Regions from separate parts of the Homo sapiens genome. Here region 1 is linked to region 2. The links come from fine-mapping of genetic effects on gene expression. A gene starts in region 2. The other region holds a variant in brackets. All regions are shown on one strand. Distances are from middle to middle. Region 1 overlaps A2ML1 (alpha-2-macroglobulin like 1). Region 2 holds the start of A2ML1 (alpha-2-macroglobulin like 1).

Region 1 (15,838 bases), 44 kb after region 2:
GAACACTCTCCTCCACTAGGCCCTATGACAGATTGATGATACAGGGAATTCCAGCCCCTCAAGTGTCCCATATCCTTGAACGGCATGGGGGTGTTTTCTGAAGTTGTCGCTGTGATCTAAAACCACATTTGGCTTCCCAGGGTACCAGAAGGAGCTGATGTACAAACACAGCAATGGCTCATACAGTGCCTTTGGGGAGCGAGATGGAAATGGAAACACATGGTAATATCACCCAATTCCCAATGAGTTCTGTACTCCAGAGCATAATTCCTGAGCCCTCTGGAACTATTCCACTACCTCTCCCCTTAACCCCTTTCCTTCTTGCACTCAGTCTTCTACCTCTTTAATACTGTTTATTTCACCCTCATGGATGGTCAAGTCCCTCGATCTTCCTGAGCTTGTGCCTCCCCTGTTCTTGTCCTCATTGGTGCCCATTAATGCCTCTCTTTTCTAGGCCTGCTATGGCATATGTTCCCTCAGCTCCCCTTCTGGAAGTATACACCCAAATAAATGAAGAAATGATTGCACCCTCACCTGGAAATTCCTCTTCATGCCATATTTTCCTCTTTACCCATGTAGGCTGACAGCGTTTGTCACAAAATGCTTTGGCCAAGCTCAGAAATTCATCTTCATTGATCCCAAGAACATCCAGGATGCTCTCAAGTGGATGGCAGGAAACCAGCTCCCCAGTGGCTGCTATGCCAACGTGGGAAATCTCCTTCACACAGCTATGAAGGTGCGGATCTGTCCAGGAGCCTGCAGCCAACCACTGTCTCGAAGGACCCCACACCTCTGACCGAGTAGAAGCAAAAGAGCACTGGCCTGGGAATCAGTTTTCTCCTGATCTCCACTGTGGCTCTGGGTGACCGTGATCAAAATGCTTAGCTGGTCTGGGCCTCAGTTTTCATGTCTGTAGAATGAGAATACAGATGAAGCCTGGGTGCAGTGGCTCATGCCTGTAATCCCAGCACTTTGGGAGGCCGAGGCGGGCAGATCGTTTGGGCCCAGGAGTTTGAGACCACCCTGGGCAACATGGTGAAACCCCATCTCTACAAAAAAAATATGAAAAATTAATCAGGCTTGTTAGTGCATGCCTGTAGTCCCAGCTACTTGGGTGGTTGAGGTTGGAGGATCACTTGAACCCAGGAGGTCAAGCCTGCAGTGAGCCGTGATTGCACCACTGCACCCCAACCTGGGTGACCGAGTGAGACCCTGCCTCAAAAAGAAAAAGAGAATGTGGACTGGAACATGGTTCTCAAAGCATAGTTCCCAGATCAGGAGCATTGGCATCACATGGGAACTTGTTGGAAACGCAGATTCTGACTCCCAGCCCACACCTACTGAATGAGAAACTCTGGGAGGGTGGGCCAGAAATTTGTGTTTTGACAAGCCCTCCTGATTATTCTGATACACACTGAAATTTGATACTACTGGACTAAAAGATCTCTGGGCCTCTTACTGTGTCACCAAATCCATCTGGGAAAGCCATTTCCTGTGGTGAGGACTAGTAGGCAGCCCAACGTCTTTTGTAAGAAGTTTACTCTATTGGGCACTATTCTAGGCACGTGGTTTATTTGATATTATTTCATGTTTACAACAAATCAATGAGCTAGGTATTGGTATGCCATTATTAATCCCATTTTACAGATGAAGAAACTAAGCCATGGAGACTAAGTAAATTGCCCAAGGTGCATGCTAATAAGTGGCAGGACTGAGATTTGAACCAGGCAGTTGCACTCCAGAGGCACTGCTTTCTTCTGTTCACTACCTTGTCTGTACCTGTCCCAAGCAGAGGGCGAGGCGTAGATCCTGCAGGATAACTTGTTCAATTCAGGACACACTCAGTGCAAGAAAGACTTGTATAAACTTTTCTAGAGAGATCACTTACATTGCTATTCCAGGGCAAGGATTAAAAATCTTGAGTGTTAAAAAAAAAATCTATTTATAGGATTCATTAGTCTTCCTCTGCAGGATCTTATTAGTCTCCCCTAAGTTTTTGTCTTCTTCTTCTCTTATACACTGTATGAAATATGCGTGGGGGCCAGGCGCAGTGGCTCATGCTTGTAATCCCAGCATTCTGGGAGGCTGAGGCGAGTGGATCATGAGGTCAGGAATTAGAGACCAGTCTGAAACCCTGTCTCTACTAAGATAAAGGACTTGACTAGAGCAAGATCTCAGAGGTATTCTTCCTTCTTTCCCTTTTTTTTCTTTTCTTTTTTTCTTGAGACAAGAGTCTTACTCTGTTGTACAGGCTGGAGTGTAGTTGCGCAATCCCAGCTCACTGCAACCTCTACCTCCTGGGTTCAAGTGATCTCAGCCTCCTGAGCAGCTGGGACTACAGGCATGTGCCACCATGCCTGGCTACTTTTTGTATTTTTAGTAGAGATGGGGTTTCACCATGTTTGGCCAGGCTGGTCTTGAACTCCTGGCCTCAAGTGATCCACCCGCCTTGACCTCCCAAAGTGCTGGGATTACAAGCGTGACCTATGCGTGCCCAGCCTCTTCCTACTTTCTTTTGAGAGCAGGCCAGTCCATTGAGAAATCCATCCTCTGTGTAGCCAAGGTTAGTGGTGTGGCACATGAGCTCCAGAGTTAAATGTCCTGGGTTCAAATTCCAGTCCTGCTGCAGATGAGCCATGTAACCGTGAGCAAGCTATTTAATCTTTTTATTTATTTACTTATTCATTTTTTTGAGACAGGGTCTCACTCTGTCACCCAGGCTGAAGTGCAGTGGCACGATCATGGCTCACTGCAGCCTTGACCTCCCCGGGCTCAGATGATCCTCCTACTTTAGCTTCCTGAATAGCTGGGACCACGGATCCACGTGCCACTACACCTGGCTAATTTTTGCAGGTTTTGTAGAGTTGGGGTTTTACCGTGTTGCCCAGGCTGGCCTCAAACTCCTGAGCTCAAGCGATCCTCCCCACCGACTTGGCCTCAAGCTGGGATAATAGGCATAAACCACTGTGCGTGACCACAAGCTATTTAATCTTGTTAAGTGTTTGTTTTCTTATTTATAGAATGAGGATAATAATTTGAGTAGATATTTTTAAAAATTTGCTTAGCTCTTTCTGGGAAAGGCGATAAGCAGGGAAGGTCTCACCTAATCTCTGCTGGAGAAGGGCTGGGTATTGTGCTGCTTGAGGGGAGCTGCATGTGAGGAGGCTCAGATGCGGTGATGCGGCAGATTCTCTCCTTATTCCTCCCTTCTTTAAAGCTCTTACCCTTCCTAACTCCTTCTCTTGGGTTTCTTAAATACCCACTCAGCTGAAGTCCACATGCTGCCTCCTGCAGGCTGTTTAAGGCTGTGCAGTTATGAAGTCCAAACTGTTCCCTCTTTGTGTGTCCTGGAGGCTTGGAGCTGCAGAAAGCCTGTGGAAAAAAGAGCTTTCTTTTCTTTTTTCTTTTTAAAAATTATTCATCTATTCAGAGGGGAGGCTGTTTTGCAATCTGCACATAATTCTTGCAGCTGCTGCCTGCTGCCCTGACTCACTGCCTCCCTGTTTGCCTCTAGGGTGGTGTTGATGATGAGGTCTCCTTGACTGCGTATGTCACAGCTGCATTGCTGGAGATGGGAAAGGATGTAGATGTAAGTTCTCCTGGCTCCTGCTCTTGATACCCTCCTTCTCATGCGTATTCCTAGAGACATTCACCCATCTTTGTCTCTAGTCACCCTTTTAAGGTCAAGAAGGATAAGATGATTTCCTGATTACTTGCCATTTTTAAAGGAATGCCTTATAAGTTATAGTCTTCATCTTCACTTTTTAGGACCCAATGGTGAGTCAGGGTCTACGGTGTCTCAAGAATTCGGCCACCTCCACGACCAACCTCTACACACAGGCCCTGTTGGCTTACATTTTCTCCCTGGCTGGGGAAATGGACATCAGAAACATTCTCCTTAAACAGTTAGATCAACAGGCTATCATCTCAGGTATGTTGGTCCTGTTGAGAGTTCTTTGAAATTGTGAACATAAGCTGTGAGTTATCTATAATCTCCCTAGTAACCTCTGTCCCACACATGTACTCTAGGATTCATTTTAGTAACAGTTATTAAGTCATCAAATTATTGTTGGGAGGTTTGTGAGAAACACACGCAAGTGCTCAAAGGGCATTTTTATACTTTTTTTTCTTTTCTTTTTGAGACGGAGTCTTGCTCTGTTGCCCAGGCTGGAGTGCAGTGGCGTGATCTCGGCTCACTCCAAGTTCCGCCTCCCGGGTTCACGCCATTCTCCTGCCTCAGCCTCCCCAGTAGCTGGGACTACAGGCGCCCACCACCACGCCCGGCGAATTTTTTGTATTTTTAGTAGAGACGGGGTTTCACCGTGTTAGCCAGGATGGTCTCGATCTCCTGACCTCATGATCCACCCGCCTCGGCCTCCCAAAGTGCTGGTATTACAGGCATGAGCCACCACGCCCGAGTTTCTCTCTTCTTGCCCAAGCTGGAGTGCAATGGCGTGATCTCAGCTCACTGCAACCTCTGCCTCCCAGGATCAAGCAACTCTCCTGCCTCAGCCTCCCGAGTAGATGGGATTACAGGTGTGTGCCATCATGCACAGCTAATTTTTGTATTTTTAGTAGAGAAGGGGTTTCGCCCTGTTGACCAGGGTGGTCTCGAATTCTTGACCTCAGGTGATCCACCTGCCTCGGCCTCCCAAAGTGCTGGGATTACAGGCGTGAGCCACCATGCCTGGCCACATTTTTATACTTTTAATGTGAAGAGAAACTACATTGAAGAAGCTAGTCGGAAAATATATTGGCATTGTGGAATCACCCTTTTGGAGATCTTTGAAAGTGCTTTGATGTAGGACCACTTTAAATATTTTTTAAATTTTTTATTTTACTTTTTATTTTTTTGAGACGGTGTCTTGCTCTGTCACCCAGGCTGGAGTGCAGTGGTGCAATCTTGGCTCACTGCAACCTTTGCCTCCTGGGTTCAAGTGATTCTCCTGCCTCAGCCTCCCGAGTAGCTGGGATTACAGGTGCCCGCCACCACACTGGCTAATCTTTGTATTTTTAGTAGAGAGGGGGTTTCACCATGTTGGCCAGGCTGGTCTCAGAATCCTGACCTCAAGTGATCCGCCCCTCTTGGTCTTCCAAAGTGCTGAATTACAAGCGTGAGCCATTGCACCTGGCCTGGACCACTTTAAATATATTTAGAATACTATTTGAAGTATGACAGATCTTGTAAATAAAATTTTAATGCATTTCATTTATCTGGCTGTGTATTTAAAATTATTCTTCCAGGCAGAAGTGCAGTCTCAGCCTTCATTTATATGAGCGTCATGGCTGAGCTGTCCTCTCACAGGGGGTCAGGTAGTTTTTTCTCTTGTGTCTAAGCAACTCCAGTCATGAAATGTGTGTCCGAGACAATGGGTTAAATACACCTGTTCCACCGTGTATTGGTTTATTGTGATGATCTCTTTTCCATTATCTTGTATTGCAAGCTCACGTTTCCTGTTACGTTCTTCCAATTAGATTGCCCTTCTGTGGTTACTTATTATCTCTAAAATTCTGTTTAATTAGTCTTCTAACGTACAGTCTTCTCATTTCTTATTTATTTTTCTTCAAGTTATCCATTATCTGTCATCTTGGCTGTCACAGAGGTTTCTTTTGGTCTCATTCTATTGGACTGCCTTCTAAGCATGTTTCATATAGTTGGCCTCATTAGCATTTCTTCATGGTTTCTCAGAATTCTTTCATATACTCTGCCATTTTTATTCTACTTAAAATGTTAAATCTTTTTTTTTTTTTTGAGACTGGGTTTCGCTCTTGTTTTGTTGCCCAGGTTGGAGTGCATTGGCGTGATCTCAGTTCACCGCAACCTCCACCTCCCGGGTTCAAATGATTCTCCTGCCTCAGCCTCCCAAGTAGCTGGGATTAGAGGCACGCGCCACCACGCCTGGCTAATTTTGTATTTTTAGTAGAGTTAGGGTTTCTCCATGTTGGTCAGGCTGGTCTCAAACTCCCGACCTCAGGTGATCCACCCGCCTCGGCCTCCCAAAGTGCTGGATTACAGGTGTGAGCCACCGCACCCGGCCTAAATCTTTGATTAAATGAAATAAATGCTGAAAAATTCATAAAACTGTAAGCAAACAAAAATTGCCCCCAAACACAGAGATTCTTATAAGAAGCTTCTATTTACCTATTTCCATTAGCATCAAAACTGATAAATTAACAAGGGTGGTTTTCATGTAATTGCTGGAGGCAGGAACATTTATCGATGCTTCTAGCTTTACACACAGGCACGCACATGCATCCTTGCATTTACATCAAGGTCAATTAATCAGCTAAATCTAAGAAATTTTTTTTCTACTCTGTTTAATTCTCAGTTGGTACTTACTCTGCTCTAAGATGCTGCATTTACAAAGTGAATGTGGGAAAGCCAGTTCCTTCTAAGGACATCCTAGTTATGTTTCTTTTTCCATAGGAGAATCCATTTACTGGAGCCAGAAACCTACTCCATCATCGAACGCCAGCCCTTGGTCTGAGCCTGCGGCTGTAGATGTGGAACTCACAGCATATGCATTGTTGGCCCAGCTTACCAAGCCCAGCCTGACTCAAAAGGAGATAGCGAAGGCCACTAGCATAGTGGCTTGGTT[GGC/G]CAAGCAACACAATGCATATGGGGGCTTCTCTTCTACTCAGGTAAACAGCCTGTTCTCCCACTGCCACTTATCAGGTAGAATTAGATCTTGTGTGGAGATAGAGGAAAACATATTGTCCTTGCCTTCTCGGTCCAGGGGCTTAGAGAGAGGAAAAGCCTGTGAACAATATATGGAAGTATTCATAAAATGGGTTATAAGAGCACATTAATAGTACCAGATGTATTTAATTTTCTTTTTTTTTTTGTTGAATGTGAAACATTGGGGCCGGGCATGGTGGCTCATGCCTGTCATCGCAGCACTTTGAGAGGCCGAGGCAGGCGGATCACCTGAGGTCAGGAGTTCGAGACCAGTCTGGCCAACATGATGAAACCCCATCTCTACTAAAAATACAAAAATTAGCCAGGTGCGATGGCAGGTGCCTGTAATCCCAGCTACTTAGGAGGCTGAGACAGGAGAATCGCTTGAACCCAGGAGGCAGAGGTTGCAGTGAGCTGAGATCATGCCATTGCACTCCAGTCTGGGTGACAAGAGTGAAACTCTGTCTCCAAAAAAAAAAAAAAAAAAAAAGCAACATCATGAGGTCCATGTTTTACATGCAAGTAGGATATATATAATTATGGCTAAATGTACATATTAATAAACTAGGAAGACCATTATGGGGTCTGTAAAGATAACACCAAGATTCATGGGCACATATCCTTCTATCCTTCTTCTGCTATTGCAGGTATTAGAAAGCTAATAAGATATAGTCTGAACTCTAAAAAGTTTACAGTCTAGAAGAAAAGCGAGGACAAAGTCTATGTATTACAAAGAGGATCTGGTTTATAATATAAGAAACATGCAAAAGGTACAACATATCGAATTTCAAAATGGGAGAGAAAGCTCATATCAGCTTGAGGGATAAGAAAAGTCTTAGCCGGGCACAGTGACTCACGCCTATAATCCCAGCACTTTGGCAGCCTGAGGCGGTTGGATCACTGGAGGTCAGGAGTTCAAGATCAGCCTGGTCAACATGGTGAAACCCCATCTCTACTAAAATACAAAAATTAGCTGGATGTGGCCCCATCTCTACTAAAGATACAAAAATTAGCTGGATGTGGTGACATGTTCCTGTAGTCCCAGCTACTCGGGAGGCTGAGGCAGAAGAATTGCTTGAACCCGGAAGGCAGAGGTTGCAGTGAGCTGAGATCGTGCCACTGCACTCCAGCCTGAGTGACAAAGCAGCACTCTGTGTCAACAACAACAATAAACAAAAACAAACAAAAACAACAACAAACAAAAATTTTTTAGGCTGGACACAGCAGCTCATGCCTGTAATCCCAGTGCTTTGGGAGGCCGAGGCAGGCGGATCACCTGAGGTCGGGAGTTCGAGACCAGCCTGACCAACATGGAGAAACCCCATCTCTACTAAAAATACAAAATTAGCCAGGCGTGGTGGCGGGTGCCTGTAATCCCAGCTACCTGGGAGGCTGAGGCAGGAGAATCGCTTGAACCCGGGAGGCAGAGGTTGCGGTGAGCCGAGATGGCGCCATTGCACTCCAGCCTGGGCAACAAGAGTTAAAACTCCGTCTCAACAACAACAACACAACAACAACAACAACAATTTTAACTTTGTTTCAGAAAGATTAATCAGCCACTTGGTGTGTGAGATAATTTAGAGAGGAGAAACATTGGACTTGAAGAGATCAGGAGACTGTTTCCTTTATCTAGGTTAGGGGTAAGGGGAAATTGGGAAATTGAATGAGTGGTGTGGCAGTATGGAAAAAACAGAGGGGTAGAATTGTATGATAAACTCAAATCATAAAAAATTATTTTAGATTATAATGAAGAGAGTAGTCATTAATCTATGTATTCTGAAAATATTAAATATCTACCATGTCCAAATCACTTTGATGAGGCTACAGAAATAACTAAGAAAATATATTTCTTGTTCTCATGAAGATTATATTCTGATTTGTTGAAATTAGCCAATTTCACTGAAGATATAACATGTAAATCAGACCTGAAAGAATGAACATCTTTTAATAGGTTGCATGTTTGGTAAAAATGTTAAAAGCACCAAGTTTAGGCCAGGTGTGGTGGCTCACGCCTGTAATCCCAGCACTTTGGGAGGCCGAGGCAGGTGGATCACGAGGTCAGGAGATCGAGACCACGGTGAAACCCCATCTCTACTAAAAATACAAAAAATTAGCCGGGCACAGTGGTGGGCGCCTGTAGTCCCAGCTACTCGGGAGGCTGAGGCAGGAGAATGGCGTGAACCCAGGAGGCAGAGCTTGCAGTGAGCCAAGATCGCGCCACTGCACTCCAGCCTGGGAGACAGAGCAAGACTCCATCTCAAAAAAAAAAAAAAAAAAAAAAAAAAAGCACCAAGTTTAAATATGGTAATGACTTAATTGAAACTTAAAAAAATTATATGGTACTATGCCTCCCTGTTTCAGGGAAATTCTTGGCCAAAGATCACAAAATACTCCTTCTTGCTCGGTCCTGAATAATTATAATATATAATAATATTTTTGGAAAGCAGTGGGTGAAATGTTTACAACTCTCAGTGACAGGTATATGTCAGAATCCTTTTTCAATGAAATCCTTGGCTATCACAAGAAGTCATATATCATATATTACCCACACTGGTTTTTCAGCTGACAGTGAGGTCCCTTTCTTTGAATTGTCTCCATATGTTCAAGCAGTAAAAAACCTCCCTGGCTCCAGTCCACAAAAGGTAAACAAAAATTGTTTGTAGATGGTGAAGCTGCACAGATAGAACTTCTTCACAGCTTCACCAGGGTGGGTGACCTGTCTTCCTGTTTTGTAGGACAGTGATAATGTCGAAATAAGAATGTATTTTTCATTTGTGAGATGAAGAAATCGGGTTTTTTTTTGTAATAGATATTTTTTGTAATAGATATTTTACACGAGTGAGATATAACAATTTTGTTGAACACTTCATTCATTTTTCTTTCCCCTTGTAATTTATATGAATTATGTTTTCAGAATGAAACAGTTCAAATATCACTGTACCATGCTCACTTAGTGACAGTTTATCTGTCTTATTCCCAGAGAAATAAAAGATTGTCACATGGTATAATGGCTAAGAAGCCAGCCTGCAGGGAAGGACTTTCCTAGGGTCCCTTATACTCCTTCCAACTGTCATGTAGAAGATCATTACACAGTTAAATGACTTCATAGACTGCAATTTCTAGGGCTATCAAGTTACTACTGTTTCTCCCCCAAATAAGGAAGCTGTAAAATATATACTGAACAATTATCCACTTGCTTCTAGCAATAACTCATTCTGAAACTGTTGGTTTCTGAACATGAATTGATTAGGTTAACCAAGTAATCTGTGGATGTTCAGTAGTACCTTGTTGATGGTGATTTTCTATAAAAGCATGCTACTGGCTGGGTATGGTGGCTCATGCCTGTCATCCCAGCATTTTGGGAGGCCAAGGCAGCCGGACCACCTGAGGTTGGGAGTTCAAGACTAGCCTGACCAACATGGAGAAACCCCTTCTCTACTAAAAATACAAAATTAGCCGGATGTGGTGGCACACGCCTGTAATCCCAGCTACTTGGGAGGCTTAGGGAGGAGAATCACTTGAACCCAGGAAGCGGAGGTTGCAATGAGCTGAGATCGTGCCATTGCACTCCAGCCTGGGCAACAAAAGCAAAACTCCATCTGAAAAAAAAAAAAAGCAAGCTACTGTGATTTCTAGGCCAGCTTCTCCAGAGGAGGTGGGTATAGTTCTCTAAATACTTAAAGAAGTCATCATCCAAGCCAACTAACAACAACCAGATGTGTGGGTTATAGAGTTGTTCAAGGTTAATTCCAATGGCTCACAAAATGGTAAGTATACGTTTGGTTGTTTCCCTCAGGATACTGTAGTTGCTCTCCAAGCTCTTGCCAAATATGCCACTACCGCCTACATGCCATCTGAGGAGATCAACCTGGTTGTAAAATCCACTGAGAATTTCCAGCGCACATTCAACATACAGTCAGTTAACAGATTGGTATTTCAGCAGGATACCCTGCCCAATGTCCCTGGAATGTACACGTTGGAGGCCTCAGGCCAGGGCTGTGTCTATGTGCAGGTAAGTAGAGATCCATGAGAATGAGCGGACATTGGGAAGGAGAGTCGGAGAGCATCTTCCCCTTAGGCCTTCTCTCTCTCTTTCTTTCTCACTTGTAAGAAAAGTAGTTTGAACTGTACAATCTTTAAAGTTCTTTCCAAGTCTGATTTGGCTACCTATTTCTTCCTACCAGACGGTGTTGAGATACAATATTCTCCCTCCCACAAATATGAAGACCTTTAGTCTTAGTGTGGAAATAGGAAAAGCTAGATGTGAGCAACCGACTTCACCTCGATCCTTGACTCTCACTATTCACACCAGGTGATTAAAGCTGGGGTGCTGGTGGCCGGCAGAGCACCTGGTCATAGGAGCTGAGCTGGGACACTTGTGTGTGTGTGTGTCTGTGTATGTGTGTGTGTACGTGTGTGTGTGTGTGTGTTGGGGATGCAGAGTGCACTGAAGTAATAGGCTCACATGTGTTTTCTTCTTCCTGCTCTCAGTTATGTGGGGAGCCGTAGCTCTTCCAATATGGCTATTGTGGAAGTGAAGATGCTATCTGGGTTCAGTCCCATGGAGGGCACCAATCAGTTAGTAAGTTACTTCTGTTTTCTTCATTTATCTAGCTGTGAGGGGACCTAACGTTATAATTTAAAAAACTGGTAAAATGGGCATCATGGCGTGTATACACACACACACACAAGGCATGTATATACATACATATATATGTATGTATATGTATGTACACTTGTAAGAAAAGTAGTTTTCATATATATATATGGCATCCATATACACAGTATGTGATTATATATATGTGTGTGTATACATATGTAGGTATATATACATGTATATATGTGCATGTATGTACATATATGTGTGCATATATGTATATATTCATACACACAAACTCATGATTGGATTATTTAAATGGGCTGCAAGGTTGTAGCAGATATATGACATGCAACTTGTAATAGTCTTGGTTCCCTTTTCCTACCTTTTCCACAGTATATATTGTTTCCTTGATCATGGCAGAGCTTTGGAAGACTACCCCAGGGAAGGCTCTGGCTCTTAGTATCTTTTTTTTCTCCCTCTCTTATTCAGCTTCTCCAGCAACCCCTGGTGAAGAAGGTTGAATTTGGAACTGACACACTTAACATTTACTTGGATGAGGTAGGTATTCAGGAACCAGATCAAAGAGCTGGATTGCTTACGGATCTTCATGACTTCCCTTCTAATCTGTATATACGGGTGTCACACACATGGGGATGAGGGGCCTGGGAGTGAGTCCACACCATGCCATGAGTTCTGCCTCCATGCTGGTATACCGTAAAACACCCCATTGTGCCTCTAGAGGAGCCCTGTCCAACAGACCTATAATGTGAGCCGTTTACGACATTTGAAGATTTCTGGTAGACACATTTAAAAAGTATAGAAACAGATGAAATTAAGTTTAACGGTATATTTTATGCAAGCTTATACACCCCAAATATTTCCATTTTACCATACAATTAATATACAGACGTATTAATGAGATATCTACATTCTTTTTTTTTTTCTGTACCACATCTTTGAAATCCAGTATGTACTTTACACTGTCAGTGCATCTCAATTCTGACTGACCTCATTTCAAGTGCTCAATAGCCACAAGTGACATTGCAACTCTAGAGTATGTTATAGTGGTTAATAGCAGAAGCTCTGAAGCCAGACTGCCTGGGCTGTGATCTTGGTTCTAGCATTGACTGAGTAACTGGACAAGCTGTTGAAAGTTAGCTGTAAAATGTGTGTGGGTAGGGGTCAAAATAGTTCTTTTAGAGTTATAGAAAAAACTAAATTATTTAAGACATGTAAAAATATTTAGAACTGTACCTGGTATAGAGTAAGCCCTCATCACTTTATAGCTATTCCTATCATTTTAACATAATGTTAATATTACTTAATATTAATCAGACATTGTATGTAACCTTTCATTTTAACAAAACAAGAAGTTCTCAAGGACTAACAATGTTCTAAAGATTGTTACAATGTTCCTTTTCATGATATTCCATTCCACACAAGGAACAAAGTTATCCTTATTGAATATAACCAAAAGACAAGAATATCCCAAATCAAAACATACTGTTGTTAGTAACATCCATTTCCAACCCCCTGCCCACCCACCAACCCCATCATCTAACTGTGTTTCCTGTCTTCCAGGGAGCCAGGGTTTTTTATGTTGTGTGAGCCGTGTATAGTTTCTTTTTTCTTTTTTTTTTGAGACGCAGTCTCGCTCTGTCACCCAGGCTGGAGTGCAGTGGCACAATCTCAGCTCACTGTAAGCTCTGCCTCCCGGGTTCATGCCATTCTCCTGCCTCAGCCTCCCGAGTAGCTGGGACCACATGCGCCCGCCACCATGCCCGGCTAATTTTTTGTATTTTTACTAGAGACAGGGTTTCACCGTGTTAGCCAGGATGGTCTCGATCTCCTGACCTCGTGATCCACCCACCTCGGCCTCCCAAAGTGTTAGGATTACAGGCGTAAGCCACCGCACCCAGCCGAGTTGTGTATAGTTTCTTTTGAGACAGCTCGGGTTAGCTTATCTGGCACTACCCTGTAATCATGATGTTGCTGTTTAAAACTTTGCCAAGTTTATGATGCTTTCATACATGACTTATTCAAGTCTTACAGCCACCCTCCTTAGACATAAGGAGACAGAGTTGGAGAGAGAGAGTGGGTTGTCCAAGTCATACCATCTGTCAGTGTCTAGGGTGGGAGCAGAACCTGGGGAGTCTGATTTCCATGACACCATGCCTGAGACTGCAATGAACTGCTCCTCAGTGTGTCCTGCCAAATCTGCCAGTTGGCTTCTAATTTGAGTTAACAGGCCTAATGATCTAAAAGCCAGTGCTAATCATTGTATCTGTGGTTATTTCCTCTTTTCTGTGTGTCTTCTCCCTTGTGTTCTTGATCAATTTCACCAGAGGATGACCTTATTCACATATATAGTCTTCCTTATTTTTTGATGAACTTACACTATAAGCGTCCCTCTAGGTACATGCCATCCCTCTCCCACAATCTCAGACAAGCAATGTTTTTACTGTCATTCAGTTCTAACTATTTCTTAATTTGTTGGGAAACACATGGAATTTTTAAAGCCATCCTTTTGTTCCTGATGTCTAATTTTGTTGCATTATGGTCTGAGAATACAGTCTTCATGATCCTGATTGCCTGGAATGTGCTGAAGTTTCTTCCATGACCTAATCCATGATCTGTTTTTGCAGGTGTTCAGTGTGCACTCCAAAAGAACATCTATTTCTTTTCTCTTGGGCTTGGATTCTGATCTAGAAGTCTGAGATCATTATTTCTGTTGTTCATGTGTTTGATAACTCTGCTTATTTTTCTGCTTGATTTAACAATTTCTGAAAAGCATGTGTTAAAATATCCAATTATGATGGTTTTTGTTTGTTTGTTTAGTATTTTTTTGGTAGAGACAGCGTTTCACCATGTTGGCCAGGCTGGTCTTGAACTTCTGACCTCAAGTGATCTGCCTGCCTAGGCCTCCCAAAGTGCTGGAGTTATAGGTGTGAGCCACCACGCCTGGCCTCTAATTATGATATTTGATTTATCCATTTATCCATACATTTCTGCCAATTGTTTCCTGATATATTTGAGACTACATAATTAGATATATATGTTATGAACATATCTTCTTATTAAATTTTCCTTATATTAGTACATACTATCCTTTCCCCATTACTATATATGTGTATATATTTATATCATTTACTTTTGCCTTAGATTCTTACACTCCCCCACCGCCACACACACACACACAATTTTTTTCCCTTGCCTTGGGTGCCATTTAGTCAGATATTAAAACTGCTACCTGGCCGGGCGCAGTGGCTCATGCCTGTAATCCCAGCACTTTGGGAGGCTGAGACGGGCAGATCATGAGGTCAGGAGATCAAGACCATCCTGGCTAACACAGTGAAACCCCGTCTGTACTAAAGGTACAAAAAGTTAGCTGGGCGTGGTGGCAGGAGCCTGTAGTCCCAGCTACTCAGGTGGCTGAGGCACAAGAATGGCGTGAACCTGGGAGGCAGAGCTTGCAGTGAGCCGAGATTGCGCCACTGCACTCCAGCCTGGGCAACGGTGCAAGACTCCATCTCAGAAAAAAGAAAAAAAAAAAAAAACTGCTACCCCAGCTTTCTTTTGGTTCATATTAGTCATTTGCTTTAATTCATTATGGTGACCAAATGATAGAAAAGAACAGTGGTTCTAAAAATTCTTTGTTTCAGTGTCCCTTTATACTCTTAATTTACTGAGGACCTCAAACAGCTTTCGGTGAAGTGGGTTTTAACTATTGGTCTTTATCATATTAGAAATTAAAACTGAGACAATCTTAAAATATTTATTAATTAATTTAAAAATGATAATAAACTCACTACATCTTAATATAAATAAAATTTTTGTGAAAATAACTATTTTCTGGCCAGGCGTGGTGGCTCATGCCTGTAATCCCAGCACTTTGGGAGGCCGAGGCGGGTGGATCACGAGATCAGGAGTTCGAGATCAACCTGGCCAATATGGTGAAACCCCATCCATCTCTACTGAAAACACAAAAATTAGCTGGGCATGGTTGTGCGTGCCGGTAGTCCCAGCTACTTGAGAGGCTGAGGCAGAAGAATCGCCTGAACCTGGCAGGCAGAGGTTGCGGTGAGCCGAGATCATGCCACTATACTCTAGCCTGGGCAACAGAGTGAGACTCCATCTCAAAAAAAAAAAAAAAGAAAAAGAAAAAGAAAATAACTATTTTCCAAAACAAAAAAATAAGAATGGTGACATTGTTTTGCATTTTTGCTTTAATATCTGGCTTAATCAAAGAGAATGAAATTTTCCTATTTACTCCTACATTCAAACCGTTGCAATATTACACATAAAGTAGCCTCTGATAACTCTCCTGTATACTTGTTTTGTTTTTTATTTTTTTAAATCACTTTCCCCAGAAGGAAACAATCTCCTGTATATTTGTAAGAGAATGAGAGTGGAAAAAAAAAGTCTTAATATCATTCTAAAAATAATTCTGACCTCTCAGATATTCTGATGCAATCTCGGGGATCCCTGGAGTAGGGGAGGTCCCTCGACCACACTTTGAGAAGCACTATACCTGAAGAACTTTGGAAATCCCTTCCAAT
Region 2 (15,838 bases):
AGTGCTGGGATTACAGGTGTGAGCTACTGCACCCGGCTTGTTTATATATATTATTTTTTAAATCTCTCAGGGTGTGGGGCAGGGCCTGCCCCACACCCTGAGAGATTTATAATTGGCTCACATGATTGTGGAGGCTGGCAAGTCCAATATCTCCAGGGCAGGCTGGACCCTATTTCCAAATTAAGTCACACTCGGAGATCCTAGGAGTTAGGACTTCAACATATAAATTTTGAGGGGGATACAATTTATCCCATAGCAGTGTTCAATAAATATTTGTTGGAAAAAAAAGGTTTTTCCCCCTAGGTATAATCTGAGCATGTGATCTCCATGTTTCTTTTTTCCCTCTTTGAACTTTCAGTTTTCTGTCATTTCTGACTTTAGGAAGCCAAATGTTGGTTTATGTGCTGTCTAAGCATGGGTGGGGTTGGGTAGCACCCTTATTTTCCCTGATGCATTCATATGCAAACTTTGGTACATTGCATATTCACTTGAATACATTTGAAAAAGGAACAGAGTGAAGCCTATAATTAGTAAGAAGGAGGGAGGAGACAGTGGCAAGCAAGGAGTGGCCCCAGCTTCTGCTTGTTCTTTCTTTTCTTTTCCTTAGTGTTGTGTCTTGGTTTGATTAGCCCCATGCTCTCTGGAGGTAGAACCTCAAATCAACAGTCCTGGGTGGAACAGAAACAGGCTCTTCTCCTCTGGCCTCCCTTGCAGTGAGGAGAGCAGAAAACTGACTTGCTGAGAATAGCATCCCTTAGCAGACAGGACTAAGCTGTCTCCTGGGAGGTTACCAAGTAAAGTGGGCTAATAGTTTTTGGAAAGCCCTTCGTGGAAAAGCAAAATAGTCAAAGAAGATGTTCACAGATGTAAGACCAAAGACTACCTGTGAAAAATAGAAATAATATGGAAATGCGAAAATAATACCCTTGAGCAGAATGGTGTGAAACAAAGTATAAAATACACAGAAATGAGTGAGGAAGGCTGGGATAATATAAAGACAGAAGACTTCCAAATACACCAGAATGAAAACATTTTCTTTAGCTGTACTGATTGGCAGTTATCATCACTAATTTTTTGGCACGAATAAATTGGAAATTTATGTCAGCACCCTTGGATAATAATTAAAAAATATATATTATAGGCCGGGCGTGGTGTCTCACACCTGTAATCCCAGCACTTTGGGAGGCCGAGGTGGATAGATTACCTGATGTCAGGAATTCGAGACCAGCCTGACCAACATGGTGAAACCCTGTCTCTACTAAAAATACAAAAAAAATTAGCCGGGGGTGGTGGGGGGGCGCCTGTAATCCCAGCTACTTGGGAGGCTGAGGCAGGATAATCACTTGAACCCAGGAGGCGGAGGTTGTCGTGAGCTGAGATCGTGCCATTGAACTCCAGCCTGAGCAACAAGAGTGAAACTCTGTCTCAAAAAACAAACAAAAACTATATATATATATATATATATATATATATATATATATATATATATGTTATGCCTAATATGTAGCATAACATGATAATATATAATTGATGTAATTCTTACTCCAGAAATACTTCTATTATTTACAATAAAGGTCCAAGTGTAAGAAGCCTTCGAAGTAACATATTATGGTGTCTATCTAAGCTAAAAGTCTCAAGTCAGGATTCTGATACCCAGAGCAAATCCAAGCACGCTAACCCCTTTACAGAATAGCCTTCCACACGGCTCCGTTTCGCCCATATGCACCACATGAGATGTCAACAGTAGGGTTTTATGCAGCCTAACTTTGGGAGATTATTAAACCCTGGACATTTCCTCCCACCAAATTCCAGACAGGTTATCAGACTGATAGCTGCATTTAAATAGATTTTAAAATGGATCAGAAGAGATAAAAATCACTGGTGGGCCGATTTGACTGATGGAAGTGGTAAAGGGAGTCAGCAGCTCTAGCTGGAGGGGCACTCACCATCTACGGAGGAGTGGGTGTTCACAGACCTGGGCGATTGCTCTTAGCAGGAAGAGTGATGGGAACCAAGGAAAACAAGACCGCAGTGGCTCATGCCGGTCATCCCAACACTTTGGGAGGCCATGGTGAAACCCTGTCTCTACTAAAAATACAAAAATTACCCCAGCATGGTGGCGCGCACCTGTAATCCCTGCTACTCAGGAGGCTGAGGCAGGAGAATCTCTTGAACCTGGGAGGTGGAAGTTGCAGTGAGCTGAGATCACGCCACCGTACTCCAGGGTGGGTGACAGAGCGAGATCCTGTCTCAAAAAAAAAAAGTTTATGGAGTTTATGTAGAGTGGTAGAGTGACCCAAAACTCAATTGAATATACTGGTTTTCCCTGTGTCCAAATCAAACAGAGCCTCCAGAGACCATCACAATTTTACAACCTAACCAAGAGACGGTGCGTGCATGTATGTATGTGCCTAGTGTGTGTGAATTAGGGGAAACATGGAGAAATTGTTTATAATTCTTGAATCTATTCTTTGATGTGTTTCATTATTTTTGGAAAATTCTCATTTCTTGTCTCTTCAAACATGTCTTCTGCTTGTTCTTTCTCGTTTCTCCTTCTAAGATTCTGATAATATGTATGCTAAGCCATTTGATATTGTTTTATAGCACTTGAAGATAATTCAAGTGCTATAAAAATTCAAATTATTTGAAAAGAATTCAAATGATTTTCACTCTTTTTTCTTGTTGTGTTTGTTTGGGTAATTTCTATTGACCTAACTTCAAGGCAATCGATTATTTCCTCAGCTATATTCGTATTGTCAAGGTTATTAATGAGCCTGAAGAAGGAGCTGCTCATCTCTGATACAGCATTTTCTTTTTTTTTTTTTTTTTTTTTTGAGACAGGATTTTGTTCTGTTGCCCAGGCTGGAGTGTAGTGGTGCGATCTCAGCTTGCTTGCGACCTTGGCCTCCTGGGCTCAAGTAATTCTCCCACCTCAGCCTCCCAAGTAGCTGGGACTACAGATATAAGTCACCACACCTAGCTAATGTCTTTATCTTACATAGACACAAAGTCTCCTCACTATGTTACCTAGGCTGGTCTCACACTCCTGGGCTCAAGTGATCTTTTTGCCTTGGCCTCCCAAAGTGCTGGGATTAATAGGCTTCAGCTACTGTTCCTGGCCTGATATTGCATATCTTATTTTTGAAACTTCTATAAAGTCTGTCATGTTTAGTATTTCAGGAAGTCGATCACTTCCACCTTTCTTTTGAAATCCACCCCTGACACCATCTCCTCATGTCTGTTGTCCTTTTTTTTTTTTCATGAGCTCCTTTGACATATGACTCCTGGGCATTTTAAAGTCTCTCTCTTTTATTATAACATGGAGGGCAGCTCTGAGCCTGGTTCCATTGATTACTTTGTATCTTCACAGGATGTTGTTGTCATCTTCTTCTTCTTTTGATACAACTTGTAATTTTTCATTGATTGCCAAACATCTTGTGTAGAACAGGAGAGATTTAAATAAATAGTATTTGTGACTAGAAATGGACACACCTCTTCTCAGGCAGTTAGCTTGGTGGATTGAGTTAATCTAGTTAAAAGGTGAACTGTGCAGGTTTTGTAATTGCCAAGTTTACTTTCGGTACATCATAGGCTTCAAATTCCTTTTGTGATGCCTTATGCTTAGGGTGGCATCTGGAGTGCTGGCTATTTCTCAGTGTTTGTGCCCCACCCTCAGCTCTCGTTCTCCTCTGTACACCACACAGCAGACCCCACAGAGGTCGTCTCTCTGCACGTTCATGCCCTCTGCCAGTGGCGGACTGCTTAGTTACTTGGTGCTCTTGCTCGGGTAATGGTGAGGGGACAGGGTGCTTCTCTGTTGCCCTCTTCATCTTCTATCTTAGGTAGGTTTATATGCCTGGGCCCTGGGGGATGAGTATTTCTGCCCCACTCCTTATGCCAGGCTGCCAAACCCTGCTTTGAATTTGTGGCTGGTCTTGGGTGGGAAAGATTTTTTTGTGCTCCTCCTTCAGTTTCAGGAGACCTCTAAAAGTATTAGCTTAGAACTCTGGGCTCACAATTGCTCCTTGTCCCTCCCTCGGACTAGGGTCCTCCCTGCTCTTCCCTTGGTAACACCTGTGCCCTGGGAGCAACAGTATTTGCCAGTCCTCCCCAGGGTCTTAAGGCTTTCGAGAGAGGAGCATGGGCAGCTGGGGCCTTTTCTGCAATGATAGCAAATACGGTCCTTGATGCCCATAGTACTGAGGGGGCTCTTTGTAGTCTCCCACTTGGCCCCCAGTATTTCCTGTGAACACCTGGTAGAGGTCATGGAAAGGAGCCTGTGGGTAAGTAAAGCCCTCCTTGCTTCTGTGACACCCAGAGGCTCCTTATAGTCACTCTAGTCTGCACTAGGCCTCTAGCAATTTATGAAAAATGTAGCTGCTTTCTTCTTGCATGCTTGTATGATGGCCTAAATACCTCCCATACTCTGGCACTGATGAGACACTCCACCCATCTGGTCTCTGCTCATGAGGATTGCATGTCCTTGAATTTCAGGCTACTTAGCTTACCTGCAACCTCAGCTCAGCTGTTTTGTTTTCTTTTGTTTTGTTTTGTGATGGAGTCTTGCTCTGTCACTCAGGCTGGAGTGCAATGGCGTGATCTCAGCTCACTGCAACCTCCACCTCCTGGGTTCAAGCAATTCTCCTGCCTCAGCCTCCCGAGTAGCTGGGATTACAGGCATGCACCACCATGCCTGGCTAATTTTTTTGTATTTTTAGTAAAGACAGGGTTTCACCATATTGGCCAGGCGGGTCTCGAACTCCTGACCTTGTGATCTGCTTGCCTCAGCCTCCCAAAGTGCTGGGATTACAGACGTGAGCCACCGCCCCCGGCCCAGCTCAGCATTTAGGTTCAACTTTTGGTTTAAGAAAAGTGATTTTGCAGTTTGTCTGGCTTTTTCATATTGTCAGAGAGGGGGCAATGCACTTTCCAGCTTATTTTTATTTTTTATTCTTAGAGACAGGGTCTTGCTCTGTTGCCCAGGCTGGAGTGCAGTGGCACAATCATGGCTCACTGCAGACTTGAAGTCCTGGGCTCTAGTGATCTTCCTGCCTCAGCCTCCCAAGTAGCTGGGCATGTGACACCACACCTAGCTAACTTTTAATTTTTTTTTTTGGTAGAGATGGGGTCTTACTATACTGCCCAGGTTGATCTCGAACTCCTGGCCTCAAACAACCCTCCCACCTTGCCTTCCCAAAGTGTTGAGATCACAGGCTCGAGCCACCAAGCCACACTCTTTCTAGCCTTTCAAATTCCAAGTTAAAGTGGAACTTGCCACATGTCGTTTTGTATCACTTTCCCCAACCCCTTTCTTTTCTTTTTTTTTTTTTTTTTGAGACGGAATTTCACTCTTGTTGCCCAGGCTGGAGTGCAATGTTATGCTCTCAGCTCACTGCAGCCTCCACCTCCCCAGTTCAAGTGATTTTCCTGCCTCAGCCTCCCGAGTAGCTGAGATTATAGGCGCCCACCACCATGCCTGGCTAATTTTTGTATTTTTGGGAGAGACAGGGTTTCGCCATGTTGACTAGGCTGGTCTCGAGCTCCTACGGATCGGCCTCCCAAAGTGCTGGGATTACAGGTGTGAGCCGCTGCACCAGCCCCAACCCCTTTCAATTAGCATTGCAAATAATTCCCCTTATCATGAAAACATTATTTTTAATGGCAGCAGAGTATTGCTTTATATTAACATGACAGTTTATTCAACCGAACTCTTTATGGGGCATTGTAATAGACTTAATGTTTTATGTTTGCAGCTCTTTACACCAACACTTTTCCTACTGTAGTGATTTCTTTGAACAATTTCCCCTCCCCAACTCCCTGTGGTTCTAAAGGGGTGGCCAATCACAGTACCCCATCACCCTGGCCTTTAGGTGGGAGAATGACCCAGGCCCTGCCTATCATACCCTCCTGACTACAGTGACTGATTCAGAGGTGAGCCAGCGAGAGAGGGAGGAACACAGTCCTTCTTCGGGAATTTCTATAACATAGGTGAAAAATTTTGTCAGTTGGGGTCGTGGAGCTGAACGAATATGGCTTGAGGGCTCCCAGCTGCCGTCCTCCCTACGACTTGAAGAAAAGCTTGTGTGCAGTAGGAGAAAATGAACCAATCAGAGACAAGTACACAAGAGAGAAGGACTGGGAGGAGTCGGCCCTGGCTGCACCACGTCTCCACTCCTGGGCTGTCAAGTTTTTCAAGGTGCTCTGGTTCCATAAGCTCATTCTTCCTGTTGGATCCATTCCAGTTACCAAAAACACTTTTTTGTTTAGGCTGGTTTGATATAGGATGATCATTGGTCCCAGAGAGCATCCTGGCTAATCTATTTTATTATTTTATTTTATGAGACAAGTTCTCACTGTTGCCCAGGCTGGAGTGCAGTGGTGCTATCATGGCTCATTGCAGCCTTGAACCCCTGGGCTCAAGCAAATCCTACCATCTCAGCCTCCAGAGTAGCTGGGACTACAGGCGTGCACCACCACACTCAGCTAATTTTAAAGAAATGTTTTATACAGACTGAAACTGCCTTTGCAAAATTGTAACAGGAAATTATGACAGTGCAAGAAGTCAGACCTAACCGACTCTATCTTGCTTCTAACCCTTAAGCTGTCCTTGTTTATTCCTGGGCATAGGCCGAAGTAACTTTGGGAAGGAATTCAGTTCATGGTTTGACTCTGAAACAAAATTGATAACAGCCCTTTCCCAAAAAGACCCCCTTCTTGCCCGGGGTCCAGTCTGCCTTTGTAGGACTAACAGATTAGCTACAAGATTAGAAATTACAGTTTAGAGGCCGGGTGCAGTGGCTCGCGCCTGTAATCCCAGCACTTTGGGAGGCCAAGGCGGGCGGATCACGAGGTCAGGAGATCGAGACCATCCTGGCTGACACGGTGAAACCCCGTCTCTACTAAAAATACAAAAAATTAGCCGGGCGTGGTGGCGGGCGCCTGTAGTCCCAGCTACTCGGGAGGCTGAGGCAGGAGAATGGCGTGAACCCGGGAGGCGGAGCTTGCAGTGAGCCGAGATCGCGCCATTGCACTTCAGCCTGGGCGGTAGAGCCAGACTCTGTCTCAAAAAAAAAAAAAAAGAAATTACAGTTTAGAGGTCATGCAGCCTCTGGCTCCAAGAGTCTGAACCTCCCCAAATTGCTCCTGGGGATAACATCACTGCTGTAAAACCTAAGATCAGTAATTGAGTTATTTTGCAGGCCCTGCACTCCATGGGATCAGCTGACACCACACAGACCAGTCATCTGGCCCAACCAGTTCTGCCATCTCACCCAGGAACAGAAGACATTAAGAAAATCTAACTTCGACCCTCTATGATTCCATCTCCAACCTGAGCAATCAGCACTCCCCACTTCCCAAGCCCCTACCTGCCAAATTATCTTTAAAAACTCTGATCCACGAAGGCTCAAGGATTTAAGTAATAATAAAACTCCAGTCTCCCACACAGCCGGCTCTGCGTGAATTACTCTTTTGCCATTGCAGTTCCCCTGTCTTGATAAATCGGCTCTGTCTAGGCAGCAAGCAAGGTGAATCCATTGGGTGGTTACAAAACGGGGTCTCACTATGTTGCCCAGGCTGGTCTCAAACTCTTGGGCTCAAGCAATCCTCCAGCTTCTGACTCCCAAAAGCTGGGATTATAGGCATGAGCCACTGCACTTAGACTAATTTATATTTTAGGTGACTTCTAAGTATTACCATCATAAAGAACACTGTGGGCTGGGCACGGTGGCTCATACCTGTAATCCCAGCACTTTGGGAGGCTGAGGTGGTCCCTGGAGCTCAGGAGTTCGAGACTAGCCTGGGCAACATGGTGAAACCCTGTCTCTATTAAAAATACAAAACAATTAGCCAGGAGTGTTGGTGCCTACCTGTGGTCCCAGCTACTCAGGAGGTGGAGGTGGGAGGATCGCTTGAGCCCAGGAGGTCAAAGCTGCAGTGGGCTGAGATTGTGCCACTGCACTCCAGCCTGGGTGATAAAGTGAGACTCTACTTCAAAAAAATAAAAAATAAAGAAAAGAAAAAAAAGAAAGAACAGTGTGAAAAAACTCAGTGTTACACTTGTGCATACATGCATGCTGTCCTTTTTTTCCTCATTAAGAAACATTTCCAGAGTAGGAGTTGCTGAGTGAAAGAATATGCAAATCTCAAAGGCTTTGGTGTGTATTACAAAATTGCCATGAGAAAGTTATCCACATTCTATTTTCTCTAGGACTGTGTGTGTCCCTATTTCCATACAGTCACAACAATACTGAGTAGTATTAATTTTTTTTTTTTTTGAGACAGAGTCTCGTTGTGTCACCCACGCTGGAGTAAAGTGGCATGATCTCGGCTCACTGCAACCTCCACCTCCCGGGTTCAAGCGATTCTCCTGCCTCAGCCTCCCAAGTAGCTGGGACTATAGGCACCCACCACTATGCCCAGCTGATTTTTTTTTCTTTGTATTTTTAGTAGAGACAGGGTTTCACTATGTTGGCCAGGCTGGTCTTGAACTCCTGACCTGGTGATCTGCCCACCTCAACCCCCCAAAGTGCTGGGATTACAGGCGTGAGCCACTGTGACCGGCCAAGTTTACTGCTTTTCTATTGAAACTGTTCTCATACCCGTGTTCCCAACTACACCTTAATTGAATAATAAAAGAAAATAAGGACATTAAATGAGAACAGGAATTGGAATGAGACCAGAAAAAAAGGGAGGAGTTCAAAATATGTTCTGAGAGCTTTACCATTATGAATACTCAGCTCTGGTTTTCCCCCAAAACTGGCTGAACCAGTATGGATGTTCCAGGCAGAAACAACTTTAAAGAAGTGAATAGTGGCCCTACCCTGGTCCACCACCTAACCTGGTGGTTACAGAAGGAGGAACACAGTCCTCCTGTGTTCCAGGTGCCAGGAGGTGACTGACTATAGCATCAGTCATCACTGCACACCCTACCTGGAATTAGTATATAAAGCTACGCGGAGCGATCTCTGCCCCTGACCCTGGAAAAATCTGTCTCACCCACAAAGATGTGGGCTCAGCTCCTTCTAGGAATGTTGGCCCTATCACCAGCCATTGCAGAAGAACTTCCGTGAGTGCTTGGTGTCAGAATTGGTTTATTAGGGCAGCGGCTTCTTCGCCTAACTTTCTCAAACATTTATATGGAGATGGGGAGATCAACTTTGGTTTATCTTAATTTCCTCCTCCTTTTTTCTCTTCTTTGGTTCCACTGATCCTTTACCCAGAGAGGGAGGCTGACGCATGAAGAGGAAGCTTTAAAAAAGATAAATATTAAAATGTGCCCTGTTTTCTGAAATAGGCCTAATTTCCTCCTTGGTGCTCTAGGCATGTGTGCTCGGTGAGGGCCTCCTGATGGCGGAAGTTGAAGACTGTGCACTGAGTCGTTGCCCCTCTGCTTCTTGTAGAAAATGAGGTGCATAAGGAAGGCAGGGGCTTGGTCTGTCTAATTCACTGCTACTTGCTGAGCGCTTAGGAGAGTGCTGGATTTTTCGAGTGAATGAATCATTATTGCCCTGAAATCCTTCTGCTCCTTTAATAGAAACTACCTGGTGACATTACCAGCCCGGCTAAATTTCCCCTCCGTTCAGAAGGTTTGTTTGGACCTGAGCCCTGGGTACAGTGATGTTAAATTCACGGTTACTCTGGAGACCAAGGACAAGACCCAGAAGTTGCTAGAATACTCTGGACTGAAGAAGAGGCACTTACATTGTATCTCCTTTCTTGTAAGCACAGACTCAGCCCTCACTCGAATCCCTTACTTGCCTATTCTCCTCCCTAGGCTCACTATAATCTACTTTAAGTATAATTTCTGTTATCTTTTGCCACGGCCTCTAAACCTATTTTTTCTCAACTTAACCTCAATCCCCGGCTATAACTCACCCACGGTTTCCTCGACCTAGGATTTCTCCCTTTAGTTCCTGACCTTAATTCTTCCTCGTGGTAATTTGTTTTATGTCTCTATCCTTGCTACCCCCATCTAACTCAGCTCTTTCCTTTAACTCACTGTTGGGTTGAGACCAGTTGATTCTGTTCCCCCAATCCCTTACCCCTCCCCAGAAGTCCCCTTTCTTGGTCAGGTACCACCTCCTGCTGGTGGCACAGAAGAAGTGGCCACAATCCGGGTGTCGGGAGTTGGAAATAACATCAGCTTTGAGGAGAAGAAAAAGGTTCTAATTCAGAGGCAGGGGAACGGCACCTTTGTACAGACTGACAAACCTCTCTACACCCCAGGGCAGCAAGGTAAGAGTCACATATTTGGGGTTCGACTAAAACCTGGGGAAACCGCTGTGCACAGGGGTAAAGAGGGGATTTGTGGTTTGACAGTAGGCTTTGGAAAAAAAGGAGTGCAGAGGAGAGGAAAATCTGGGGGGATTAAGTAGTGCAAGTGTTGAATACATGCTGCGCTACACAAGCAAGAGAAGTAGGTGGGGGTTGCTACTGAGTTTGTGTATCTAAAACAAAAGTACACATTTCTTCTGGAATAGAATTTGGCAAGTATAACTGGGTTGCTGGGCCTTACAACAAACTGCTTGTAAATGGCTAAGAAAGCACTGAGGGCATTTGGCTTGAGCTACTGGGGTTTTTTTTTTTTTTTTTTTTTTTTTTTGTATTTGTTCATTCGTCCTTACAGGGGCACTTCATTCTGAGATTTCAAAGTCAGGCACCCTGAAAAGAAACTATGTTTGGGTTTTTTTTATTTTTTTATTTAAAATTTTTGTGGGTACATAGCTGGTGTATATATATTTATGGGGTAGATGAGATATTTTTATACACACACACAATGTGTAATCATTACATCAGGGTACATGTGTATCCATCACCTCAAGCATTTATCATTTCCTTGTATTACAAACAATCCAATTATACTCTCTTAGTAATTTTTAAATGTGCAATAAATTATTGTTGACTGTAGTCACTCTTTGTGCTAAAAACTACAAGATCCCTAGATCTTATTCATTCTAGCTAAATATATTTTTGTACCCATTAACCATTCCCACCCCACCCCTCATCCTGCCCACCATTACCCTTCCCAGCATCTGGTAACCATCATTCTGTTCTCTCTCTCTCTTTCAAAAAAATTTTTTTCCTTTTACCTTATTTTTTTCCACACACTTAAAAATTATTATTCTATTCTCTATCTCCACGACTTCAATTGTTTTAATTTTTAGCTCCCACAAATAAATGAGAACATGGAAAGTTTGTCTTTCTGTGTCTGGTTTATTTTACTTAACATAATGACCTCCTGTTCCATTCAGGCTGTTGCAAAGGATGGGGTCTCATTCTTTTTTATGGCTGAATAGTACTCCATTATGTATGTGTACCACATTTTTTAATCCATTTTTTATCATCTGTTCATAGACACTTAGGTTGCTTCCATATCTTGGCTATTGTGAATACTGATGCCATAAACATGGCAGCACAGATAGTCTTTGATATACTGATTTCCTTTCTTTTGTATATATACTTAGCAGTGGGCTTGCAGGATTATATGGAAGCTCTATTTTTAGTTTTTTTCAGAAACCTCCAAACTGTTCTCCATAGTGGTTGTACTAATTTACATTCCCACCAACAGTGTATGAGGGTTCTCTTTTCTCCACATCCTCACCAGCATTTATTATTGTTTGTCTTTTGGAAAAAAGCCATTTTAACTGGGGTGAGATAATATCTCATTGTAGTTTTGATTTACATTTCTCTGACAGTCAATGATTTGAGCACCTTTTTTATATACCTGTTTGCCATTTGTATGTCTTCTTTTGAGAAATGTCTATTCAGATCTTTTTGCCCGTTCTTTAATCTGATTACTAGATGTTTTCCTATACAGCTGTCTGAGCTCCTTATATATTCTGGTTATTAATCCCTTGTCAGATGGGTAGTTTGCAAATATTTTCTTTCATTCTGTGGGTTGTCTCTTTGTTGATTGTTTCCTTTGCTGTGCAGAAGCTTTTTAACTTGATGTGATCCTGTTTGTCCATTTTTGCTTTGGTTTCTTGTGCTCCTTGGGTATTACTCAAGAAATCTTTGCCCAGACCAATGTTCTGGAGAGTTTCCCCAAAGTTTTCTTATATATAATAGTTTCATAGATTGAGGTATTAGATTTAAATCTTTCATCCATTTTGACTTGATTTTTCTATATGGAGAGAGATGAGGGTCTAGTTTCATTCTTCTGCATATGGATATCCAATTTTCCCAGAACCATTTATTGAAGAGCCTGTGCTTTCTCCAGTGTATACACTTGTCACCTTTGTCAAAAATGAGTTCACCCTAGACATGTTTCTGGGTTCTCTATTCTGTTCCATTGGTCTATGTATTTGTTTTTATGACAGTACCATGCTGTTTTGGTTACTATAGCTTTGCAGTATAATTTGAAGTCATGTAATGTGATTCTTCCAGCTTTGTTCTTTTTGTTCAGAATAGATTTGGTTATTTTAGGTCTTTTATGGTTCCATAAAAATTTTATGATTTTTTTTACAAAAGTCCTAAGATTTAGGATGTAGAATTTCTGTGAAGAATGTCATTAGTATTCTGATAGGGATTGCAATGAACCTGTAGATTGCCTTAGGTAGTACGGAATTTTAACAATATCAATTCTTCCAATCCAGAAACATGAAATCTCTTTTCATGTTTTTGTGTGTCCTCTTCAATTTCTTTCATCAGTATTTTATAGTTTTTATTGTTGAGATCTTTCACTTCTTTGGTAAAGTTTATTCCTAGGTATTTTATATTATTTATAGCTATTGTAAATGGAATTATCTTTCTTAATTTCTTTTTCAGATTGTTCCCTGTTGGCATATAGAAATGTTACTGAATTTTTTTTGTTTTTGAGACAGAGTCTCCCTCTGTTGCCCAGGCTGTGGAGTGCAGTGGCGGGATCACTGCTTACTGCAACCTCTGCCTCCTGGGTTCAAGTGATTCTTGTGCTTCAGCATCCCAAGTAGCTGGGAGTACAGGCATGCGCCACCATGCCCAGCTAATTTTTGTTTTTGTTTTTTTGTTTTTTGAGATGGAGTCTCATTCTGCCGCGCAGGCTGGAATGCAATAAATGGTTGCTCATTGCAGCCTCTGCCTCCTGGGTTCAAGTGATTCTCCTGCCTCAGCCTCCCGAGTAGCTGGGTTTACAGGTGAGCGCCACCACCCCTGGCTAATTTTTGTATTTTTGGTAGAGATGGAGTTTCGCCATGTTGGCCAGGCTGGTCTCCAACTCCTGACCTCAAGTTATCCTCCCCACTCAGCCTCCCAAAGTGCTGGGGTTACACGCGTAAGCCACCACGTCTGTCTTCTTGCACTTTTAGGATTCTTTTTTGTTTTTTATTCCTTGATGTTTGGGAGTTTGATTATTAAATGTCTTGAGGTAGACTCATTTGGGCTAAATCTGCTTGGTGTTCTATAATCTTGTAATTAATATTGATATCTTTCTCAGCTGGGCTCAGTGGCTCATGCTTGTAATCCCAGCACTTTGGGAGGCTGAGGTGGGCAAATCACCTGAGATGAGTATTTCGAGACCAGCCTGGCCAACATGGCAAAACCCTGTCTCTACTAAAAATACCAAATTAGCCAAGCAAGGTGGCCTGTGCCTGTAATCCCAGCTACTGGGGAGGCTGAGGCAGGAGAATCACTTGAACCAGGGAGGCGGAGGTCACATGAGCCAAGATCACATTACTGCACTCCAGCCTGGGCAACAGAGCGAGACTGTCTCAAATAATAATAATATTGATATCTTTCTCTAGGTTTGGAAAGTTCTCTGTTATTTTCACTTTGAATAAACTTTCCATCTCATTTTCTCTCTCAACCTCCTCTTTAAAGTCAATACCTCTTTTTTTTTCTCTTTGTTAAATTTATCTGATAAGATTCTGAATTCTTTCTCTGTGTTATCTAAAATTTTGTTGAGTTTCCTCAAAACAGCTATTTTGAATTCTCGATCTGAAAGATCACTATCTTTGTTTCTGGGAGATTGGTTGCTGGTGCCTTATTTAGTTCATCTGGTGAGGTAATTTTTTCCAACATGGTCTTGATGTGGATGTTCATTGGTGTCTGGGCATTGAAGAGTTAGGTATTTATTGTAGTCTTGGCATTCTGGACTTGTTTGTACCTGTCCTCCTTGGGCAGACTTTCCAGGTATTTGAAGGGACTTGGGTGTCGTAATCTAAGTGTTTGGACTCTGCAGTTCATCTGCATTAGGGAGGACCCCATGCTCAGTATCTCTGTGGCTCTTGAAGGCTCATAGAGGTACCTCCTTGATGGTCTTGGATAAGATCTGGAAGAATTCCAGATTACCAGGAGGAGACTCCTGTTCTCTTCCCTTACTTTCTCCAAAACAAACAGAGTTTCTCTCTTTGTGCTGAGCTGCCTGGAGAGAGGGGTGACACAAGCACCCCTGTGGCCACCAGCATTGGGACTGCACTGGGTCAGATCTGAAGCCAGCACCGTACTGTGTCTCACCCAAGGCCTGTGGTAACCAGTACCTGGCTACTGCCCATGTTTGCTCAAGGCCCTAGGGCTCTACAGTCAGCAGGTGACAAAGCCAGCCAGGCTTGTGTCCTCCCCTTCAGGGTGGTGAGTTCCCCATGACCCTGGAAGGTCCAGAGATGTAATCTGCGAGCCAGGGCCTGGAGTCAGAAACCTTAGGAATCTACCTGGTGTTCTGTTCTACTGCAGCTGAGTTGGCACCCAAGCCATAAGACAAAGTCCTTCCCACTCTTCCTTCCCCTTTTCACAGAGGAGTCTCTCTCTGTGGCCACCACTACTCCAGGCCCACAGGAGTACTGCCTGGATACTTCCAGTATTCTCTCGAGGCCCAAAGTCTCCTTTCACCAGCTTGTGGTGAATGGTGCCTGGCCTGGGACTCTCTTTTCAGGGCAGTGAGCTCTCCTCTGACAAACAGCAGGTCCAGAAATGGCATCCAAGAGCCACAGCCCATAACTGGCGACCCCAAGGGCCTGCTTGGTGCTGTACCCCACTGTGGCTGAGCTGGTACCTAAGCTGCAAGACAAAGTCCCCTTGACTCTTCCCTCTCCTTTTCTCAAGTAGAAGGAGTCTCTCCCCATAGTCACCACAGCTGGGAATGTGCTGAATCACTGGAAGCCAGCATGTCTCTGAGTCTCACCCAAGGCCCACGACAAGTACTGCCCAGCTATCACTGCTGAGTATTTAGAGCCCCAGGGGCTAATCGGAACTCAGCTTCCAACCGCTGGGATGGGCAGTTCACCCCTGGCTAACGCTGGTCTAAATGCTCCCTCCATGGGCACTGGCTGAGTTCTGCCCTGTGTGCTTTCCCCTGTGATTGGGCAGCATTGCATTCTAAAGCCAAGTCCCACAGTCACTGTGCTCTCCCGCCCTCAAGCTCATCGATTCTGTCTCTGTACCACAGTCACTGCTGGGGGATGGCGGGGAGGGGGTGAATCAGCAATTCAAGTGTGTCTTTTCTACCCTCTTCAGTGCCTCTTTCAGTGATATAAAGTTAAAACCAGGCACTGTGATCACTCTTCTGATTTTTGGTTCTTATGACAGTGCTGTTTTGCGTGGGCAGTTGTTCAGTTTGGTGTTACTGTGGGGGATGAGGAGGGTGGTCAATGGAGGCTTCTATTCTGCCTCTTGCTCTGCCTCCTGAGCTCCAGGCCTGTGTTTGGACTTTACCTTACTCTCAGAGCAGGTTTTGTAAAAAAGTAAAACCTGTTGGGGTTTTGCTGACTCAGAGCATGTGTGAGGAAGGAGGAGGGATAGAGGAAAGATTCTGAGCAGGAGGCGGAGCGCGGTGGCTCACGCCTATAATCCCAGCACTTTGGGAGGCCAAGGCAGGTGGATCACCTGAGGTCAGGAGTTCATAGACCAGCCTGGCCAACATGGT

Evidence for each region.
Region 1: its variant is fine-mapped to the expression of A2ML1 in esophagus mucosa (GTEx, PIP above 0.99). The same link has a PIP of 0.9 or more in amygdala, anterior cingulate cortex, caudate, cerebral cortex, iPS cells and nasal epithelium.

Annotation. Positions count from the first base shown.
Region 1 is chr12:8,857,367-8,873,204 of GRCh38, forward strand. It overlaps A2ML1 (alpha-2-macroglobulin like 1), which reads left to right. Exons shown (of 36, transcript NM_144670.6): 25 at 141-222; 26 at 580-736; 27 at 3,515-3,589; 28 at 3,769-3,931; 29 at 6,428-6,642; 30 at 10,476-10,691; 31 at 10,864-10,991; 32 at 11,171-11,261; 33 at 11,769-11,837. Among named protein-coding and RNA genes, the nearest start is that of A2ML1-AS1, 34 kb to the left of the region's middle. The variant GGC/G (reference allele first, on the strand shown) is at 6,600.
Region 2 is chr12:8,813,647-8,829,484 of GRCh38, forward strand. It overlaps A2ML1 (alpha-2-macroglobulin like 1), which reads left to right and starts at 8,975. Exons shown (of 36, transcript NM_144670.6): 1 at 8,975-9,067; 2 at 9,536-9,719; 3 at 10,074-10,236. The coding sequence starts at 9,006. The region is part of intron 1 of A2ML1-AS1 (A2ML1 antisense RNA 1); the gene reads right to left. RefSeq lists enhancers at 781-1,307, 14,724-15,466 and a silencer at 5,727-6,021.